2 separate regions of the Homo sapiens genome follow, and region 1 is linked to region 2. Evidence: fine-mapped expression QTL. Tissue or cell type: cerebellum. Region 2 holds a variant in brackets; the other region holds the start of a gene. All regions are shown on one strand. Distances are between the middles of the regions. Region 1 holds the start of NPTX1 (neuronal pentraxin 1). Region 2 has its middle 23 kb from the start of NPTX1.

The links. PIP is the estimated chance that this variant, and not a neighbour inherited with it, causes the effect.
Region 1: NPTX1 starts here. The variant in region 2 is fine-mapped to the expression of NPTX1 in cerebellum (GTEx, PIP above 0.99). The same link has a PIP of 0.9 or more in cerebellar hemisphere.

What each region holds. Positions count from the first base shown.
Region 1 is chr17:80,472,367-80,482,488 of GRCh38, forward strand. It overlaps NPTX1 (neuronal pentraxin 1), which reads right to left and starts at 4,241. Exons shown (of 5, transcript NM_002522.4): 1 at 3,637-4,241; 2 at 3,145-3,352; 3 at 834-1,078. The coding sequence starts at 4,080. RefSeq lists an enhancer at 2,695-3,228.
Region 2 is chr17:80,448,186-80,458,307 of GRCh38, forward strand. No RefSeq gene overlaps it. Among named protein-coding and RNA genes, the nearest start is that of NPTX1, 23 kb to the right of the region's middle. RefSeq lists enhancers at 6,232-7,061, 9,544-9,633 and silencers at 6,269-6,478, 6,739-6,998, 8,764-9,058. The variant C/T (reference allele first, on the strand shown) is at 4,547.

The DNA.
Region 1 (10,122 bases), 24 kb after region 2:
CAAGCTTTTGCCGAGGATCTGAGAGATGTCATGGAGCACGATGCCTTTTAAAGCTCAGACCAGCCTCCAACCTGGAATTTCACTCTCCCACTGCCATTCCAGGTCGGGAGGATGACGGTCCAGCAGACAGTGAGGAAAGAAACTTCACACCCTTTCCGCTTGGGGAAAGGGGGCCCAGAATGGCACAGCCCTTTGTGGGGAAGAGCAACAGGAACAAGGGCGTGGAATCCACTTCCCAGCCCAGGTTTTAGCCATTGACTACCACTGCTGGCCTGGACTTGAGACAGTTTGAAAGCTGGCAGCTAGTTCCATAGCTAACAGGGGAGGATGGAGAATGTTCACTAGAGGGAAAGGCTGCCTGTGCTGTCCTGTTCCAAGGGATCACACAGACCTGTCCTCCTCCCGAGAGTTAGGGGGCTGAGTGGGATAGACTTGGACTCAGGAAAAATCTCTAAGGACCCCTCACCCCGCTAGAGCATCTCTGGGTCCCTGCTATGGAGGGGCAAAGCCAGTTCCAAGGCCAGCTGGTGGAGGAGTCCAGATCACATCATCGGGCAGGGCCAGGCCCCATGGCTCGTTCTCCGCCATCTCCCGTACCCACCCCAGGAGGCATCCGGGAAGGTCCAGCTCTCCCTGCTCTCCCAGTACAGGTGAGGGGGCTCCTACCACTTCTCCTGGTCTTCACCCTCCCCCTCCCTCAGTCCCACCTGGCAAACACTTTCCTTGGGGCCCCATCAACATCTGAGGCCACCATAGCCCTGTCTCCGCATGCAACATGAGCTGGGGCCCTGGGGCCTCGCCCTGCCGCCCTGTGAGCCCGGGGGCTGCTCTACCTTGTCATTGATGAGGATCTCCATGGGGTTGTTGCCCCACTCAATGAGGACCAGCTCGTTGGCCTGGCCGGGCACAGCGTAGGAGAAGGGCGTGCCCACACCTGGCGTGGCGCTGGACTTGAGCCACATGCAGACAGTGAAGGCGTACATCTCTGGCAGGCTCTTCTTCACCTTGGCATACATATAGTTGGTCCGCAGTGGGAATGTGAGCTGGAACTTGTCTCCAGGGCGGTTGTCTTTCTGACCTGCGGAAGACACAGTCCTGACATCTGCACCTGCGTGAAGTGCTTATCGGTGTCTGAGTTGAGTTCGGTCCCCACCAAGCTCTGTGATGCGTGGCCAGGGCAGGCTCCGGTCTCCATTCTGGAGACGCAGAGCGGGTAGCTTCCCAGGTCAAGTACTTTGCCCCAAGGCACAGGGCCAGTCTGTAAAGAGCTGACCCAAGCTCTTCATGCTCCAGGTCTGGCCTGCTGTCACGCCCATGTGCTGGCATCCTTGGGGAGATGGGGGTGGGGGGCAGTGCCTGGTGGGCTGCTGCATCAACACTGGGCTGCGTGGTGGGCATGAGAAGGGAATGGGGACAGCCGCCAAGCCAAGTCAACCCAAGGAGCAGGGGTGGCTGCAGAGGAGGAACGAGGCTAGCTACCCTGAGAGTAACCGACCTGATTCCAGGATGGGGCGGGGCTCAGAGCCTCTCCTCGCTCAATCCCAGGCTCTGCTCCTGCCTCTCCCCACCCGACAGCCAGGCCCTGGTGCCCACACACTTCCCTCCAGGCCAGATGTGCCTCTGACCCACCAATGCCTCTTGGGTGTGAGGCTGGGCAGCTCCCCACCTCCAAGGCCCTTCCTTGGAGCAGGGACTCTGCCTGGAGCTCTGCTGAGAGGGCAGGGCAGCAAGGAGCTGGGAGTACTCTGGGCGCCAGGGCTCCCCAAGGTGACTGCTCTAGGATGCCGCCACACTCTCAGGTGAGTAAGTGTCCTCACAGCTCAGGTTCCAGGCCTGGTGGCCTCCCTTTCCACAAGGCCCACCTTCTCCCTCCCCACCGGCCACTTCTCCCGTAAGCGCCAACCCCCATAGCCCATCTATATACTGTGGCACCCTGGGTATGGTGTGACTGACTCCAGGCAAAACATTCCTGGCCAGCAATGGGCACAGTAGCAGGCCCAGAGCCCAGGAACACACACCCCTTGGTCAATCCCTGGGTGAGCAGCCGTGGTCCTGCCAGGAAGCCCAGAAAGAAACCAGTTCCCCAGGCCAAAAATTATTTCTAGAAGACATCCTGCCCGGTCAGCAACCACCCCCTCCTCTAAACCAACTGGCAGGGAGCAGAGCAGGGCAGGCCCCCTCAGTGCAGCACCCCAGCGGCTACCCCAACCCATTGAGGCCTGCAGTGGGGGATAGGGAGGGGCCCAGCCCCTGGCCTTTCTCCGGGTGTTTTTCATTCCCCAATCTCCGCTCCTTCCCTCTCCCTCCCTCCTGAGGTCCTTCCTTCTGATCTGTTTTTCAGTTACATAACAAGCCTTAAGATGGCACTGTTTAAATCTGTCCGGCACATTTTGCGGTCTGAGCAGGGTCACGTGGCCTTGCTCCGCACCGGGCACCCCCCCCCCTCCCCTTTTACAACCTTGTTTGATTTCTGCGACTTCAAGACAGAGCCTCCAGCGCTCATCCAGGCGCCCTGGGTGATAGACTGGCTGGCCTGAGTTGGTGACTGAGAAACCTCAGGGATTTGAAAGATGCCAGGACTTGGGTCACTCAGAAAAGAAAACCTCAGGGTAGGGGTTCAGGACAGAAGTGGGGAGGAGCTGGAGATCCTGAGAGGACACCGGGGGCATGGCAGCCGGGAAGAAACCTGCTTAACAGCCTCAGCGGCCCGGGGAACGAGAGCGCCCAGCCCCAGCCTGCACCCAGCTGTACGCTGAGGCTGGGGACCAGGGAGAGACAGGCTTTCTTAAGCAGGGAGGGTTTGAGCCAGCGACAGCCACTGTGCAAAGTTACTGAGGATTAAACAAATCAGACTTGAAAAATCCAGCGAGTGTGTGAGTGTGTCTGGATGGGGGAGGGGGCACTATGCAATCCCCTTTCCCAGAGACAGCCCCAGCCCAAGGCACCCAGCCCTGATAGAAACACCGACTAGAAGCCCAGAACCTGGGAAGGGGTGCGGGGAATGAGAAAGCGGTGCAGGGGTTGGGGGTAGCGGAGCGGCTTGAGGCTTGCACAGTGCAGAGCTGGGCTGTTAGGGATCGGGACCGAGGCAGGGTCGGGCAAGCAGGTGCAGGCAGGCAGCACGGCTCCCCCTGGCCCCAGTACCTTTCTCGAGCTCGCTGATCCGCTGGTGCAGGGAGGTCAGGGCGGTCTCGATCTTGACCCTCTCCTCGGTGTCGTTCCTGGGGCCCCCCTTGCCCTCCTCCAGGGTGTTCACCCGGGACAGCACCTGCCTCTCCAGCTCATCGATCTTGCTCTGCAGCAGATCCTTGAGGCTGTTGGTCTGGCTGGAGGAATTGAGGCGGCTGTACTGCTGCGGGGTGCAAGGGCGGGGGAAACCACACCGTTAGGCGAGGCGCGGGGACCGTGCTGGAAGGCCCGCGGCGCGGTCCCCTCTGGGCGACTGCGGGGGCGGCCTGGCAGGGAGCTGGGGCGAGTGGCCGCCGCGGGGCCTCGCAGGCGCGGGGAGGCACCGGCCGGGCACCCGCGCGGCTGAGGCGAGGGCGGGGGATGCCTGGCCGGGTAGGGAACGGGGTGGGGGAGGGCAGAGGGGCGAGCGAGCCGGAGGGGGAACCGGAGCCGAGGGCGCGCGCGGACCTCGAGGTTCTCCAGGCGGGTTTTGAGCGATTGCAAAGTTTGCCCGAGTTGGCTGAGCGTCTCGGCGGCCGGTGTCCGGGACAGGTCGCCCATGGTGTTCTTGCCCGAGCCGGGCTGCTTGCGGCCGCCGCCCGCCCGGGCCTCGCCGGCTCCGGGGTCCAGCGTGCTCTGGCTCTCGCAGCGGCCCAGCTTGGCGGTCAGCTCGCGGATGGTCTCCTTCTGGCTCAGGATGGTCTCCTTCTGCTGCAGCACCGTCTCGCGGAGCTGCAGCACGCTGCTCCGGAGCTCCTCGGCGCCGCCGGCGGCCACGGACGCGGCGCACATGTCGGCGTCCACGGGCACCGAGGTGCAGATGAAGCGCGTCGGCCCGAAATCCTGGGCCCCGGCGCCCAGGAGGCAGAGGGCGAGCAGCGCACAGGTGCGCGCGGCGCGGCCGGCCGGCATGGCTGCGGGCACCGGGCGCTCCGGGCCCGGCTCGGCTCGGCTGGGGCTCGGCTCCGGCTGGGACCCGGCTCGGGCTGTGGCTCCGCGAGCGGCCCGCGCTCTGGGCGCCGCGCTCTTCGGCCGCGCGGTCCACACCGCCGCGCTATCAGGCCCCCACTGCCGCCTGCGCTGCGGAGCCCGCGCCTTTTATGCCGCCGCGGGAGGGGCCTCGAGCCGCCGACGTCAGCGGGGGAGGAATCCCGCTTTAATTGTCCGCGGCCCGGGCCCGCGGCGCGGCGGGGGTCTCACGAGCGCGCCACCGGGGCTGCCTCCGCTCGCGTCCCCCCCGCCCTTCTGGGAGCTGCCGCGGCCCCCTCCTCCCCCGCCCCCGCCTGGGCCGGCGCTGCTGCCCCGAAGGCTCCGAGAGCTCAGGGGGAAGGAAGTCGGGCTCCGGCCCCGGACTCGAGGATGGACCACCTGCGTGGTGTCCCCGAACCTCCGACGGGGCTCCAGGCGGGCGGGAAACCACCGCGTCCGGGAGATAGAATTCGGTTCGGCCCTCCTGGCTGCACTGAACACCCTTGGGCCGGGGTCGTTTGGAGCCGGGCTGGGTGCCCAAGGACCCAGGTCGTCAACACCCGAGTGCCCGGTGGTCAACGGCTCGGAGTGGGGCCTCGCGGCGCCACTAAGTCCAGAGCGGGGGTCACCGGGCCGCCCCGCGTTTCTTAGATGTCCGTGTGCTATTGAGAAGCCGCCGGGCAGCCTGGGTACAGGGACTTCCCACGGGTCGGGGCCCCCGGCGCCTCCCCTCCCCCAGCTCCCGGGCTCTGTGGACCCGGCCCCGTCCCCGGGGGACTGTCAGTCCCCACCCCGTGCGGGCGGGGCGCTGGGGACTTCTCGGAGGCAGACCTAGCTGATCGAGCCTTTCCTGTCCGCGGCGCCGGCCCGATCGCGGGCAGGCGGCGTCGCCGGGGCTGGACGTTCGCAGCGGCGCTTCGGAAGGGGGCCCCGCGGGAGCAGCCGCCCGCGTCTCCAGCAGCTTCCCCTTGCCAGGCGCCGCGCGCGCCCGGTATCCCCGGGTGTCCACCTGTGCGTGGGGGGCTGTTTCCCGTCTGTCCAGCCGCGCCCACTTCTCAGGCCCAAAGGCCAGCAGGAAGGGTCCCGGAGGTGGCTGGGGGCGTCCACCTGAGAAGCTCCGCTCTCGCTCAGACACCCCACCCGGCACCCGCGCACTCGCGCCTTCATCTGGACCGCGGGGCTCGGCTCCCGAGATCGCGGTCCGGGTTCCGGCGCCGGGCTGGGGGCTCAGGACCAGGGCTGGCGCAGCCGCCCCGCCCCGCCCCGCCCCGGGGCTATCAGAGCGGTCAAAGCCTCGGAAATCCCTCCGTCCACGCTCCCGTGGTACAGAGAAGGAAACTGAGGCTCCGAGACTGCGGGGCCGGGCTACAGCCGTGGCCCCCCGACCCCTCCCCGCCGCCCCCGGCTTCTCTGGTCTCTGCGTTCTGCAGCCTTTCCCTGCGCGCAGCCGGGGGCTGGGGGTCCCCAGCCAGCAGGGACCCACGGGCAGTCCCGGGTGCCGGGATCGGGCGTCCGCCCCTCGGGCGGGAGCAGAGGCCGGCTCGATGGAGACCTTTTTGAGAAATGGCGGCCTCTACCCGCCCCCCAGCCCCCGAGCGCCCGCCGTCTGCGTTCAGCATCTCAGCTTTTAAGCCTCCCTGAGCCGGGGCTGCGTTCTCGTTGTCTCCTTCGGCCGCCGCTTCCTGGCGCCAGAGGGACCCCGCGGCCCGCACGGGCCTGTCCTCGGCTCCGCTCGGAGGGTGTGCGGGTTCCCGCTCCGCTGGCCCCGCTTGCCCACCACGGCGCGCCCAAACCCACGCGGCCCGCGGCCCCTTGCGTGCTCTGCCGACCCCGGGCCGCAGGAGGGGTTAGCCTCGCCGGTCCCCACGCGGGGTCTGCGCCGGCAGCGCCACGGGCTGGAACGCGCCTCGGGAGAAATTACCCGCGCGGGGTCGCGGCGTCTTCTGCCCCAACTCCCGTAGGGAGCCGCTAGGCGGGTGCCCTCCTGGCCCCAGCGCTTTGGCCTCGCCGCCCTCCCGCACGCGTCCAGTGGGGAGGCCGCGCCCGTCAGGCCTGGAGCCGGACCGTGCCCAGCCGAGAGCGCGCGGGCGCGGGAGAGGAGCCCTGCCCTGCCCAGGGCAGGCTGTTTAGACGGGGCGGGAACCCTTAGCCTGGCCCCGCGTCTCTATCCCCAGCAGCCGTGGAGCCTTCCTAGCCGCCCAAGGCCAGGGACCCTGCCTGGCTTTTCCTCCAGGGCAGCAGATCTCAGCGGCCTGGCACCTCGGCACAGAGGAGCGTGTCCCCCTTCCGCAGAGGAAGGGAGTGGACGGCGTCAGAAAGGGAGGGGAGCCTGGGGCGGTGTCTGGGGCTAGCGGGACCTCTGGGCACTGTGGGGCCCCAGGAGAGGAGACCCTCGGGTCCAGCCTGCAACTGTTGTGCAGGAGGCGCTGGGCGGGACACCTGCAGGCGCTGCACACACACGCGAGGGCCACCATGCCGCGTTTCTCCTTCACAAGACCCTGGGCAAGCGGAGGGTCGTATTTAGGATTCCCTCGGCCTCCCCAGTGTTCTGAAAGTATCTGAGAGGGAGGGAGCAGGAAAACGAAGGGCCGCCCTGCCCAAACTCATCGGGGTGTCTGGTTACTAGGTCGGAAGAGGGGGGATGGTGTTGTGAACAGCCAGTGATCCCGGCCCTGCCTGAGTCCCACACCCCAGATGCAGCTGGGGTGAGGGAGGCGATCCCGTAATATTCCCAGCCGCGTACATTTGTGGCTGCCTGTGACACGACCTCACTCATTGGGAAACCATGCACACTAGCACACTGTTATTTTATTTTTGAGACAGGGTCTTGCTCTGTTGCCTAGGCTGGAGTGCGGTGGCGCAATCACAGCTAACTGCAGCCTCGACCTCTTGGGCTCAAGCGATGCTTCCTGCACCACCACACTTCAGCTAATTTTTTTTGTTTTTTTCGTAGAGATGGTTGAACTCCTCTTGCCTTGGTCTTGGGACTACAGGTGCAAGCCACAGCGCCCGGCCTAGCACAATAGTACTTATTATACTACTCCCACCATAACGGTGCAATAGATGTGAATAAAACTCAAAAGCATAGACAAGGCTGGGCGCAGTGGCTCACGCCTGTAATCCCAGCACTTTGGAAGGCCAAGCTGGATCACATGAGGTCAGGAGTTTGAGACCAGCCTGGCCAACATGGTGAAACCCCGTCTCTACCAAAAATACAAAAATTAACCAGGTGTGGTGGCACACATCTGTAATCCCAGCTACTTGAGAGGCTGAGGCAGGAGAATCACCTGAACCTGGGAGGCAGAGGTTGCAGTGAGCCGAGATCGAACCACTGCACTCCAGCCTGGATGACAGAGCAATACTGTGTCTCAAAAAAAAAAAAGATAGACAATAGTTCAATGTAAGAAAATAATTAGAAAGTGATGAGTTTGTAGTATTTATTGCCCATTTAAAATATAATTTATTTAATTATAAGTTTACTTAGTTTAAAATGTAATAGTGGCTGTGTTTAACCATCGACCTGTGAAATTCCTGCAAATGCCACCATCAGTGGGTACTGGCCGGCTCAGCTCACTCCTGGTGGAAGGGCACGGAGAGGCCTGCAGAGGTTAGTTGGTAGTGGGAGGGGGAGTGTAGAGAAGGCAAAGGGGGCAGGTGTCCAGGAGAGGCCCTGGTTAGTGGCCAGTATGGAGAGGGTGGCCAGGCATAAGAAGACTAGACAGACCGGGTGCAGGGGCTCACGCCTTGAATCCCAGCACTTTGGGAGGCCGAGGTGGGTGGATCTCTTGAGCCCAGGAGTTTGACACCAGCCTGGACAACATGGCAAAATCTCATCTCTACAAAAATACAAAAATTAGCCAGGCATGGTGGGGTGCACCTGCAGTCCCAACTACTCTGGGGACTGAAGTGGGAGGATTGTTTGAGCTCGAGAGGTTGACGCTGCAGTGAGCCGAGACCACGTCACTGCACTCCAGCCTGGGCAACACAGCAAGATCCTGTCTCAAAAAAAAAAATTTTAAAAAAAGAAGGCTAGCCGGGTAGGTTGGGAGGTATTAAGAGGACCTCAGTGCCCATCAAGAGTCTTTACTCAGTGGACGGTGGGAGCTCATGCAGGGGTGTGCCTAAGCCTGGTGGGTGCCTGTGCCCCTTGCTCATCCTGCCGTATCTCCCCGGCCTCTCATCTTCCAGGCCATGCCTTGAGCTTATCTGGAACCTCCACCCTTAGCAGGAAGAAGGGTGAGCAATGGGTGGGTGCTGGGAGAATGCTGGGAGGGCCTGAGAGCACTGCGGGGTGCTAGGCAGAGGCACCCTTCTCTGCCCCACTTGCCTCAGCCCTTCCCGCATGATGTTCCATGCTGCCTCTGGAGGGGTGAGGCTGGGAGGGGAGGGTATGGTGGGGTGGGAGAGGCCCTGGTCCCCCACCCGCAGAAGAGAAGCAGGAGCCCTCGATGATCACAGCCCTGGGATAGACACAGTGCCTCAGCCAAGGGTCAGGTACATGCCCCTCTGGAGGACAGGCTGTACCCCTCGGAGACTCATTGCATTGGCAGCTGGTCTAGGATGTGGGACAGTCTGCGGTAAGGTGAGTGGCCGGGGTTTTAGTGTGTGAGATGTGCAACGCCATTTTCACCTGCATCTGAGTTTCCAGCAGCTCGCAGGGTACCGGCCATATTGTTTCTCTATCTGGGTGCTGATCTCATGGGGTGTTTGTCTTGTGACCATTCACTGGGCTGTCCAGGTGCAATCTGTGCACCTTTCTCTGTGGTTCTATGCCTCACACAGGGTGTGCAGGGCACAGCATCCGCAGGGTGTCCTGGGCAGAGGAGAGGGGCTTCTGGCCGCACCAGGGGAGAAGGCACAGGGACCTCTGGCAGCCCAGCCCTCAGGACACAGTCAGGCCACGTGACCTTCCCCCCAAGTGAGGCGCCCCTGGACCCACAGGGTTGGGTGTGGGGCTGCTCTGACGGCAGCCAGTCCCACGGGGCCTCTGAGTCACAGCCTCAGCCCACCTGTGCCTTGGAGTCACTCCTGACAGCCCCACCCACCAGCTCTGTGTGATAAGGGACAGGTCCCTGCTCCCCGGCTCTGCTGAGGGAGGCGCCCCACCCGAGCCTTCCCCTCTGTCCTCTACATGACACCCCTGCGGTGGTAACCTAACTGTGTCTTAAAAACAAGCACTTGTCCCCTTTCCAAGTCCTGGGTCCACATTCACGCATTTGCCTTTCAAAGGCACAGCTGGGCTCTAGTCCTCGCTCACCACAGAGGAAACACAGGGAAGCCCAGAGAAGCCAAGGTCGCACCGTCGCCCAGCGAAGGCAGAGCTGGGGCCAAGCCCTGGCCTTCGCACTCCATGTGGCCACTTTATCTCTGCCCAGCACAGGAGCTGCAAGGAAAAGACTCCAGGAGAGGAGCCCTGAGGGGACAGTGCCCCAGCCCACCCATGTCCAGTGAGTGGGCAGGGCAGGTGGGGCTGCGGACCCCAGGCTCAAGACCTTCTCACCAGCCATCTTCAGAGGAGAAGCCAGCCCTGCCTCACCGCAGGACTACGCGCTTCTGCCCACTATGCAAGTGTGGCGAAGCCTGCAGCAGCTGCAGCCAGGAGCTGATGGGCCGGGGCAGTGCCCCATTCTCCTGCGACAGCTGAGCTCCCACCCCAGATTCCCTGCTCCCACCAGGGGCTTCCCCACAGCAAGGACCACCTTCCTCCTCTGAGCCAGCCAGGCGGCCACTGGCCCAGTCTGGCTGGGGACAGGGCCCTGGGTGGTCTCTGTCCCCACCCTGCCTGTTCCTTCTCTTGGGCTGAGCCCAGTGCTGGGGTCAAGGATGGGGAATGGGTGCTCTTGAACTGCTGACTCACTGATCCCAATCAACAGGAGTTTGCAGGGGAAAGGTGAGCCCTTCCCACCTGGGGAAGGCGTGTCTTACTCTCCAAGTAGGCATTTCATGGCACCAGGCAGATGCTTGGGCATTTGCCATAGTGTAACT
Region 2 (10,122 bases):
CTCATGGCCCTGTGCATCTTGACAGGTCTCTGTCTCTGGGAGCCTCATCAGAAGAAATGGCTTAAACTCCACAGGGCGGGATTTGGGGAGGAGAAAGAGCTTTGGGCTATGGGGAGTCAGGAGACGAGGGGATGGCGGGGCTTACTGTCCTTTCAGTGACCCGAGAAAGAGGCTGGCTTGGGTGAGAGGAATGGGGCAGCTTCTCTTGCCTCTGGGACTCAGGAGAACCCAGGGCTCTGAGGCTTGGAGGGGGTCTGGAAGCTGTTGGGGGGCAGGTGGGGCGCTCATGGCATGTAGAACTGGGACATGCCAGGCAACAGTGAGGAGGCCAAGGGTGGTGGGAAACACCATCTGGCAGTGGCAAGCAGGTCTGGGCGTAAGAGGACAGACAATCCCACGTCCAGGACGACAGTCCCAAGGCAGTTGGCTCCTCCTGCCCCAGCGGTCCCAGCCGACACCCACGTCCTTCCCTCTTCTCCTCCTCCCTCCCCGGCTGCCCGTCCTGTGCCCATTTATCATGCCCATGGTAGTGCCCCGAATGGTGGTCCCAGGTGTCCACCCACAACCTCAGAATGTGACCTTTTTTGGAATTAGTCTTTGCAGATGGAATAAAGTTAAAGATTTCGAGATAAAATCATCCTGCATGAAGGGTTAACCTGAAATCCAATGACAGGTGTCCTCGAAAGAGAAAGGCAGAGGGAGATTTGAGACCCAGACACCCACAGGGGAAGGTAGAGGTGGGACAGTGGGAGAGATGCATCCACAGGCCAAGGAGTGCCGAGGTCCCCAGCACCCACGGAAGCTGGGAAAGCGGCCTGGGACAGGGTCCCCGCAGAGGACCAGAAGGATTTTGGAATTCTGGTCTCCAAACCTGTTAGAGAATAAATGTCGGTTGATTTCAGCCATCAAGTTGATGCTCATTTGTTAATGGCAGCCCCCAGAGAGGGAGACAGCCTCCCTTCCCGTCTCTCCAGCCCAGCAGACTGCTGGGTATTGGGGTTGGAAAAGTCTTTCAAGGGCTCAGGGAGTGCTGGGGTGGCCACCACCTTCTGAGCACCATCCTGTGCCTGGGCCTGCCTCCCTTGCAGCCCGAGCCCAGGCATAGGAGCCAGCTCCACTCGCACCTGCCAGCCTCAGCCTCAGCCTCAGAGGTGAGCAATGCCAGGAAGCCGATGCCTCCAGAATCCCTTGACCAACGGGGACGGCAGCGGGGCCCTGGCTTTCAGAACAGCAGGTGCGGGCTGCTGGGTCCATGCCCGGTGGGGGAGGCTGCACGGTTGGGCCCTTGTTCTTGGCTGTGTGGCCGCCGAGGCTCTCCGGAAGGTTCTATGAGCCTCCTAATATCTTGTATTGGGTTCCATTAAGCTGGCCAGAGTGGGTTCTGCCGGTTCCAAGTGGTGTGTGGGATGGGGAAGTGCTCTCAGCTCTGTCCCTGGGACAGGTGGGGGGTGGGCGCGTCACATGCCAGAGATCTGGGGTGAAGGCCTGAAGACCCTTCCCCTCCTGCTGGAGGAGAGCCGACCTCCCCCACAGGGCCTCGTGGGAGTACAGGCGGCCAGCAGGCCCGTGGGAGATCAGGAGGGAGATGTGTTCATAGCCGGCACTCGAGGCACCTGGGTTCGGGACACACCTGGGCTCGGGTCACAGAAGCCCCCCATTCCCCAGGTTGAAGAGGCCTGGGCTTTCCCTGGGCCTGGCTCTCGCTCTCCTCCCCCAACGCTGCTCTGGTCCCCGGCGGCCTCCTCAGGGCCCAAGTCCTCCCTCCCCCTGTCCTCCTTCTCTCCACTACCCCCTTCTTAGAAATGAAGTCATCTAGAAAAATAATCAAAAAATAGAAAGGAAAAAAACACCTTAGAAAATGGGATTTTTTTTCCCCTTCAAACATTTGGTGAGACACCTCCCACACGGATGAGTGGCCACGGGGCCTGTTTTGGTGTGAGAGAGACTTGGGCCTGTACCCTTGGAGTTGTGAGAGGCAGGGGGGCCTCCCAGTCCCACAGTGGGGGTCTACACTAGGCCTCCCCTCTGCAGCCTGGCCAAGGTTGGCCCCAGAAGCCTGAGGTCCCCGCCGATGCCCTGAGCAGGAAGGCCGCTGAGTCCCCGAGGCCAGGGTGCAAGGCAGGGTGGGAGGGCTGGCGGGGGCCAGGCCAGGGGCTGCTTAGCACCTAAGTGAGGCCCTGCCTCCGGTCTCTCCCCTCTTCCCACCCGGCCCACGCCGCTGCAGGGCTCTGGTTTGTTTATTTATAATTCATCCTCTGCCTGCTTCCAAGAAGGCTCCCGGCACTTACTGGAAAGCTGCTTCCTGAAGCTCCGTTGTGCTCCTGGCAGGCTCGGGCTCAAAGCCCGTCAACGCTTCCCCATCACTCGCAAAGGCAGACGACTCAGCCTGGCTTCCAGGGCCCTCCAGATCTGGCCCCCAAATGCAGTCTTTCCGCCACTTCCTGATGTATCTCCTGGCCCCAGAGGGACCCTCCCTTACAATGCAGATTGCTCGAGGGACCCCGGGACCCAGGATACTTCCTCCTACCTTGGGATCAGACCCTCCCTCATCCCATGGCGCCTTCTCTGGTCCCGACAGTGGGGGACGTTGACACCTCTCTTCTGCCCATTGGCTGTCTGCTGTCACAGTTACCTGGTACAGGCTGCTCCTTCTGGCCCCAGCCCGACCTCCCCGGCCCTTGGAGGAGCTTAACCAAGTCAAACTATTGTTAAGGTTGATGGTGACAATGCCAGGGAAGGTGGAGGCTCCCCTCTGCCTCCGGAGTGGCATTGAAGACGGAGGTGCCTGCAGTTGGTCCCCACGCTCGATAGGCAGGAAGCTTTGGTCAGGAGTGGGGCTGAGAGGAGCCACCCTGGTGGCTTAGTCTGGACGCCTGACTGGGGGTTCCATGAGTGTGTCCTCGGGGGCTGGGTGGCGAAGTGTGACTCCACGGGCTGGAAGGGCGGGGACACAGTGTGGTGAGAAACAGCATGCAGGGCTGCAGGCGGCAGCTCTGCAGTCAGGGCTCTGGGCTCAGGGAGCTGTCCCCTGAGCAGGGAAGCTCACACCAGAATTGGTCAGGCAACCCAGGGATCTGTGAGGGATAAGAGATGGTAGTTGTGTGAAGCCTCTAGGCTTTGGGGTGATTTGTTACACAGCCAAAGCTAACTGATACAGCCAGGAACTGCTGATGGCACAGCCGGAAGTCCCACCCACCCTTGAGAGATCAGCCCCTGCCTTGGGCAGGAAGCCCAGGAGGCTGTGGGAAGATCTCTGGCCTGCTGGAGGCCCCGGTTGCTGGTGCTAAGAGGAGGGGCAAGGAGGGACCAGGGAAGGGGACACCCTGACCACTGGAGTGCTGAGGAGCGAGTTGGGGGGTGGCCAGATTGGGGTTAGCAGCTCGAGGGGCACACCTGGGGGGCTGTTTCCAGGTGGATACTGGAGGCCAGCCAGCAGGCTCCCTTGAAGCAAGCCCTCATGCCACCTTCCCAGCCCATCTGGGACCTCACCACATCTTGCTTCTGGGAGGAGGGTCACCCTCGATCCTGGGCCTGCTGCCTCAGGCTGACTCTTCCCTGCTGTGGCTGAGTGAGCAAGCTCGGACCCTGGCCTGAGGGCCTGCTTAGTCCCCCTCTCAGATTTGCACCGGTCAGGGCCAAATAACTGGCTTAGCCAGGGGACCCTGGAAACCTCACTTCATTTCCTTCAAGCCCTAATTCCTCCATTGAAAAACAGGGCCCTGTGCGGAGGAGTAAACGCGAGAAAGCCCACGGGGCATCCATGCATATCCCCCTGGCTCAGGGCCTCAGCTTTCCCTTCTGTAAAATGATGCTATCTCTTCCGCTTCTCCCTCTGCCAGTCTGTACCTCCAACTTCTACAGAGCAGACCGGATGCCTCTGCCCGCCGGCAGGGCACGTCACAGGTAAGGGGTGGGGGCTGTGCCCCATCCTCCACCATCTGTGGGCTCCAGATCCCACTGGCCTGGTACCATCAGTCATGGCCAACTCCCAGCTTCTCCCTCCCTCAGCTTAAGCAGCCACTGCCTGGCAGAAGGGGAGCCCTGGCATGGCAGGACCCTTGGGGACTGCCCTCAGGAAGCCTCAGTGGCAAGGGCAGATGCCAGCTGGGCTGTGTCAGGGATCCTCTGCCACCTGGCAGACACACTACAGAGCGTGGCCTTTCCCTGCTGCCGACTCTCCTTGTCACTGAGTTCCGTGGGGCCACAGATGTCCTGGCCATGGGGGTCAATGCAGAACAGATGTCCATCCCTGGCCACAATGCTCTGTGCCAGAAGGACAGTGCCAGAATGGCCCCTTGCTGACACAGCCCCAGAACCCCTGACTTTGGAACTGGGTGGAAGGGAAGAGAGGAGCCAGGTGACTCCATCTCCTGAAGGAACTACCTTTGGGAGCCCAGGACCGGCCCAGAAGCATCTGGCTGTGGGGTGGCCTACAGCCTCCTCCCCACATGGCTGGCTGGCAGATGGCTGCCCTGGCCTGCCCAAGCCACATGCCCGGCAAAGAGTTCCTCTGCCAGTGCCGGGGCCCACGAGGAAGCCGGCTGTC[C/T]GGACATTTGCATGCAATTCCGGGCAGCCCCGGATGCTTGTCTGGCTTCCAGCCTGGGAAGTGGCATCGAGCCCTGGGAAGAGGACAGGCTTCACGGCCACAAAGAGCTCAACTGAAGATCTGAATCCTGCATTTAGTAGTGGTGTAACCGGGGTCAGGGGCTTTCTGAGCCTGTTTCCTCCTCTGTAAAGGAAGGCTAATGTGTAAATGTGAGCTTGACATCTAGAGCCACATCCAGCACAGAGGAGGCGATCAATGATGGCTGGCTCCTTCCCTTCGTCCATGGCTCACGCCTTACACCTGCTGCTCTAGGCAGAAATGCCCCCCTGAGAACCCCTGAGAGGACTTCCAGAGACCCCACCCTGGAAACTGATCCCACCCTCCTCCTTCTCTGTGACTTCCACACAGCCTCTTCCTCATCATTCCTTCCTACCAGACTAAGGGGCCTTGAGGGTGATACCAGGTGTTCTCCAGACAATTCAACACCTAGCAGAGTGCTGCGCGGGGCTGCCAGCATAAATCAATGACATCTTTCAGCCCAGAGGGTTCTGAGAGTGATTGCATTTGACAGCACTTCCTGAGGCGCCCCTGGCCTCCTGAGGAATGAGCTGTTCAGGGCATCTGGCAAGCAGACACCAGTCCATGCTGGCACCCTTCCTTCTGGAGAGTCACCCAAGGGAGCCACCGATCGCTGCTAGAACTGGAGCAGAGTCCTCAAACAACAGTCTGCACACAGACAAGACCCGGGATATTTCTTTGATCCAGCTCCTGCCTTACAGGACTTCATCTTCACCCATTCCTGAGGAAGGAGAGAGGAAAAAAAGACCTCTCATACACCCCCTCAGTCTAGTGTTTACTGAGCACACACTGTGATCTGGATAAGAGAGAAACTCTGCCGTCTTGGTGCTTTCAGACAATACACATCAAATTACATTATCAACGATGCTGGATGGCGCTAAGAGCCGGGGAGGGAAAGCAAGGGAGTACAGGCCACAGACCGTCCTGGACTTCGAGTTTGACTTACATTTTGGCTTTGCCATGGTACAAACGCCATACACATTCAGTATACTCCTCCGCTTACAGATGGGGTTACATCCGGATAAACCTACCGTAAATTGCCTTACAATGCTTTAACCTATGATGGGTTGATGGGGAATCTAACCCCATATGACAGGAGCATCTGTATAGGAAGGGGGCACGGTTTTCAACAGGTGGTCGCCTCACTAAGTGGGAGTCACAGGGTTTCAGGGGAGGAGCGTTCCAGGCCGCGGTAACAGCAGGTGCAAAGGCCCTGAGGCAGGACGGGGCAGGGAGGTCCAGAGTCCACCGCGCAGAGACCCGGGAGGCCGGCAGGCACGGTGAGGACCTTGACTTAAACCCAGGAAAGGGGAACCACACTGGGGCATGACCTCCTGTACTTTCCGAGATCGCTCTGGCTCCTGTGTTGAGGAGACTCAGGAGGGGAAGGTGGAAGCGGGGAGACCCAGCTGAGACGCTACTACAGTCATCTCGGCGGGAAAAGACGGCTCGGAGCAGGGTGGTGGCAGAGGTGGGAGAAGAGGTCAGGTCTGGGGAAATTTCGAAGGCACAGCCAACAGGATGTACTGCCGGGCTGGATGCGGGGTGTTAGGGGTCAGGGAGGCCGCCAAGGCTCTGCCTGAGAACTGGGGAGGGCCAGGGGCACCATTTACGGAGCTGGGGAACAGCAGGAGCTCGTTTTGTTAGCAGGTGCGAGGCGCCGGGCATTTAAAGGCGGCCTGACGGGACCGGCCGAGGCGGAAGAACGGACAGGGCCCTGCGGGACCGCGCTCGGATCCGCCTCCTCCCTGACCTCGGCGTCCCCGGCTACTGCCTCCAGAGCCGCTTCGGGGCCGACCCCGGGGACTCTTCCCGCCTGCGGCCTCGCGCCAGCCCGGCCGGCTCGCCTAGTGCCCGGCGCCCAGAAACGCGTGGAGCTGGGAGAGGCCACACAACCCACGCCGGAAGCCTAACCCCGTCGGCCCCCGCGGCCGGCACCGGCCGGAAGCCCGCGAAGCCTAACTCTCGCGAGACGCCTCCTGAGTCCCGCCTCTCCGCGGTTCCGCCAGTCGCCGCGCTCCTGTCTGCGTTGCTGTGGCAGCCCCGCCGTGCGTCCGCGTTCCCGGAGCCAGCGCGGCGGCGCGCCTGTGCTCGGGGCTTGGCCGTAGCTTTTCCTCAGGTCCCGCGCGGCGCGCCCCTGTGTCGCAGGCGCCCTGCCGCTGCCCGCAGCTTTTGGGGGGTTCGGGGGCGGGGGAAGCAGGGCCGCAGAAGGCCCAATCGGAGCCTTCTGACACCCGCCCCGGCCCGCCGCCCTCCCGGAGCTTCCGTCCCCGCCGCCTGGCTCCTTACTGACACGCGCGCCGCCCCCGGTCGCCCGTTTTCCCTGGGCTCCGGCCTCCTCTCGCTTCCAGCCCTGGCCTGAGGTCCTGAGGGCTCCCTGGAGGGGGCGGCTTCCCAGCACCCAGCGTTTAACAGGGCCCTTTCGGCCTCCCTGTCCCCCAAGCTCAGAGTTGGGGTCTGCAGCAGGGGAAAGAAGGAGGGAGACTGGGCAGCTCAAGTTCCCCAGACCGCACCTATCAGACGGAGGGCGGCCCGCTCCCGTCAGAGCCCGACCTCGGCGGACAGGGGAGGGGATGGGTTGAGAAGCGGGAGAAGGCCACTAGCTGGAAACTCCCTGACGACAGGGACACCGTTCTCGCCCCAGCCCCAGCGCTCGGCCTCCGCAGAGCCGGCCCAACGAAGGAAGAATGAAAATATGAACGTGACATGATGTGGGCTTGAGAGGCCGCCTTGTTCTTTGGATTCACCCAGAAACCTGACTGAAAGGAAAGTTACTGCAACTGGGGAAAAGCACAGTTGGCTGGAGAATTTGGTTTAAAAATAAATAAGTTTTAAATTACGTAACTAACACGTGCTTGGTGTAGAAAATTTGGAAAACATATGAAAGTACGGTATAAAAATCCTCGATCCCACTGCCACATAGAACCACTATTAACATGTCAGAATCGTTTCTTCGGGTGTTTTTTTTTCTTAATGCATTTATATTGCATATACATTTTTTCTCTAACAATATATTGATGTGCCCCAGTCCCCCACAGACCCTAATGTATGAATGGGAATGGAGGCGTCTGAAATGTGACTCACAAAGAGTTCTCTTTCCTCCCTAACACCCCATCCCTGCCTCACCCCTTCAGCGCATTCACAGCAGCACTGGGACTCCGGACTCAGACAAATGTGCACTGAGCTGGCTGGTGCTCTCATAGCCTCTGGCCCCAGAGCTCCACCTTCCCCTGCAGAGGGGGTCCCGGGAGTGTCCTCAAGTGCTCCATGCCCCATGTTCCTTTCCATGGCACCAAATTCTTCTGACCTCCTTCTAGGTGAGGGGTGAGGGGGTGAGGTAGGGGGTTGGGGAAGAGTGTCCCCATGAGGCCTGAGGGGCCTGCTAGTGCAGGGGAGGAAGGGAAGTTCAAGCAAGCAGGCTCAACGGAGGGCTCCACCCTCCAGGTACGGCCAGGTCCTGGGAGAAGGAGGGGAAGCAGTCTGGTCCAGGAGAGAGGCAGCAAGGGCAGATGCTAAGCCTTTGCCTCTGCACTCCCTGGGGACCTCTGGGGACCCCCCCCCCCACCCAGCACTAGTAATCAAAGGAGGACAGACACCTACACACGTGTCCCATATGTCTCACCCTAGCAGGCAGCGAGAGGATGCCCAGTGTTACTCTGGCCCCCTGGAAGGCTAGCTTGCTCTCCTGGGCACAAGTCAGAAGCAGTGTGAACTGGAGTGGGTGGTGGGGGACACCCCTCCCGGTGAGCCCCCCCTCCGACCCGGCTGTCAGTGATCCACAAGTCTGGCCCATCAGCCCTCCCTGCTGAGCACACAGTCCACTGACCCTTCTTCAGAATTGTGGGAATGACCTCACTGCCCCTCCAAGCAACGTGTTGTGCTGCCGCCCACATCAGACATCCGGGGAATGGACTGCACAGCCTCCATGTGTGCTGGCTCCTTGGCGCCTGCAGAGCCGGGTTGATTCTGTCTTTCCCTTCAACTCTTGTCTTAAAGGATATCCTGAGCGTGCCGGCTCCTCTGCTCAGAGGGTGTTAGGGTGGCGGTGGCAGTGGGCACCTCTCTGCTCCTCGGCTGGGTGCTCAGCCTCGCCAGGCTGCCTGGAGCTGGTGGAGCAACAGCCTTGTCCCCCGTCCAGCTCTCTGCAGCTGCCCTCTCCTGTCAGAAGCTCCTGGAAAGCATTTCTGGCACATAGAGGCCATCTGCATGTTCTCCTCCTGCCCGCCCCACCCCGAGTAGCCACAGAGGATCTTCCCCAGCTGCCTTCACCTCCGCCCCCAGACAGAGCCTCCTGGCTACTCCCCCAGATAGTGTCTCCAAAATCACTTCCATTTCTCCTCTGCTCGCAGCCACTCAGTGGCTTTCGTTATCATTCAGAATAAAACCAAAGCGTCCATTACCATCCAACCAAAGACCCCAGGAACGCGCTGCAGTGGAATCAAGCCACGTCTGTTGACTGGTTGCTGTGAGAGGATGTTAGGAAGGACCCGCAAGTCTCCTCGTGTTGGGAGAGCATGGTGGGAGGAGGAGTTGGGAGAGGCTCAAGGCAGCAGGGCTGACTCCACAGCTGGGTATCTTGATAACTTTTATCTAGAAGGCAGGAAGAACAAAATGCAGCTGAAGCTGAAATTGATCAAGCAGCAGCGGTCATTCAAATTAGCCAGGACGGGGTGGTTTGGTGACCCTTGAGGTCTGGCCGATGCTCATGTTCTGCCTATGCTCTGACACGATCCTGTGTATCTTGCCCCATCTCGGGCACACAGTGGTCTTGTCTGGTGTTGGTGTTCAGTGACATTGCTTAGCCATGAAATTGTCTCCAGGTTAGTGACTAGTGACGCCAGGGTGGGTGGCTCTTCTCTTTTTCAAGACCTGGGTGTCACCTGACCCCCAGCTGCCTCTGACTCACCTGCCACTGCCCTTCTTATCCACACTCTTCCTGACAAGCTGGTTTCCTGTGTGGCCGAACAGTTTCCTCCTTCGGGCCCTTCGTGGTCACCGGGCCCCTGCCTGGAGCCTCCGCCTCAGGAACCCATGTGGCTGACTCCGGCCCTGTGGCCTTGCCACTCTCTCTCCATCCCCACGCTGTCCCCTTGGTGGTTCTTACTGCCACCTTCCTTTCCACCTGCTGAAACCCTAGGGTCTTCTGGTCCCTCTGCCCATCTAAGACCGAATTCCCACAACAGGGAGAGTCTGGGTGACACGCTGGTGCGTTTATTCCTGGGGCAGTGTGGTTCCCACATGGATCCTCAGATGTTCTTTGGTGTTGGTGACCCCACTGTGGACCGTTGGTTCTGCTCCAAGACCAAAGCTGGCTGCTGGTGGGTGCAGAATGCGCATGTGGCTTGGACCAGACAGCCTCTAGGCCTCCCCTTTCTACCGCCAGGTGCCGAAGGGCCAGCAGCCTGGACACCCCGGAGCCCTGGAGAGCTCTGACCCCAGCCTCTGCCCCACCTGAAGTGGGTCTGGCCCCTTCTTGCAACAGGATCAGCCCCCAGCTG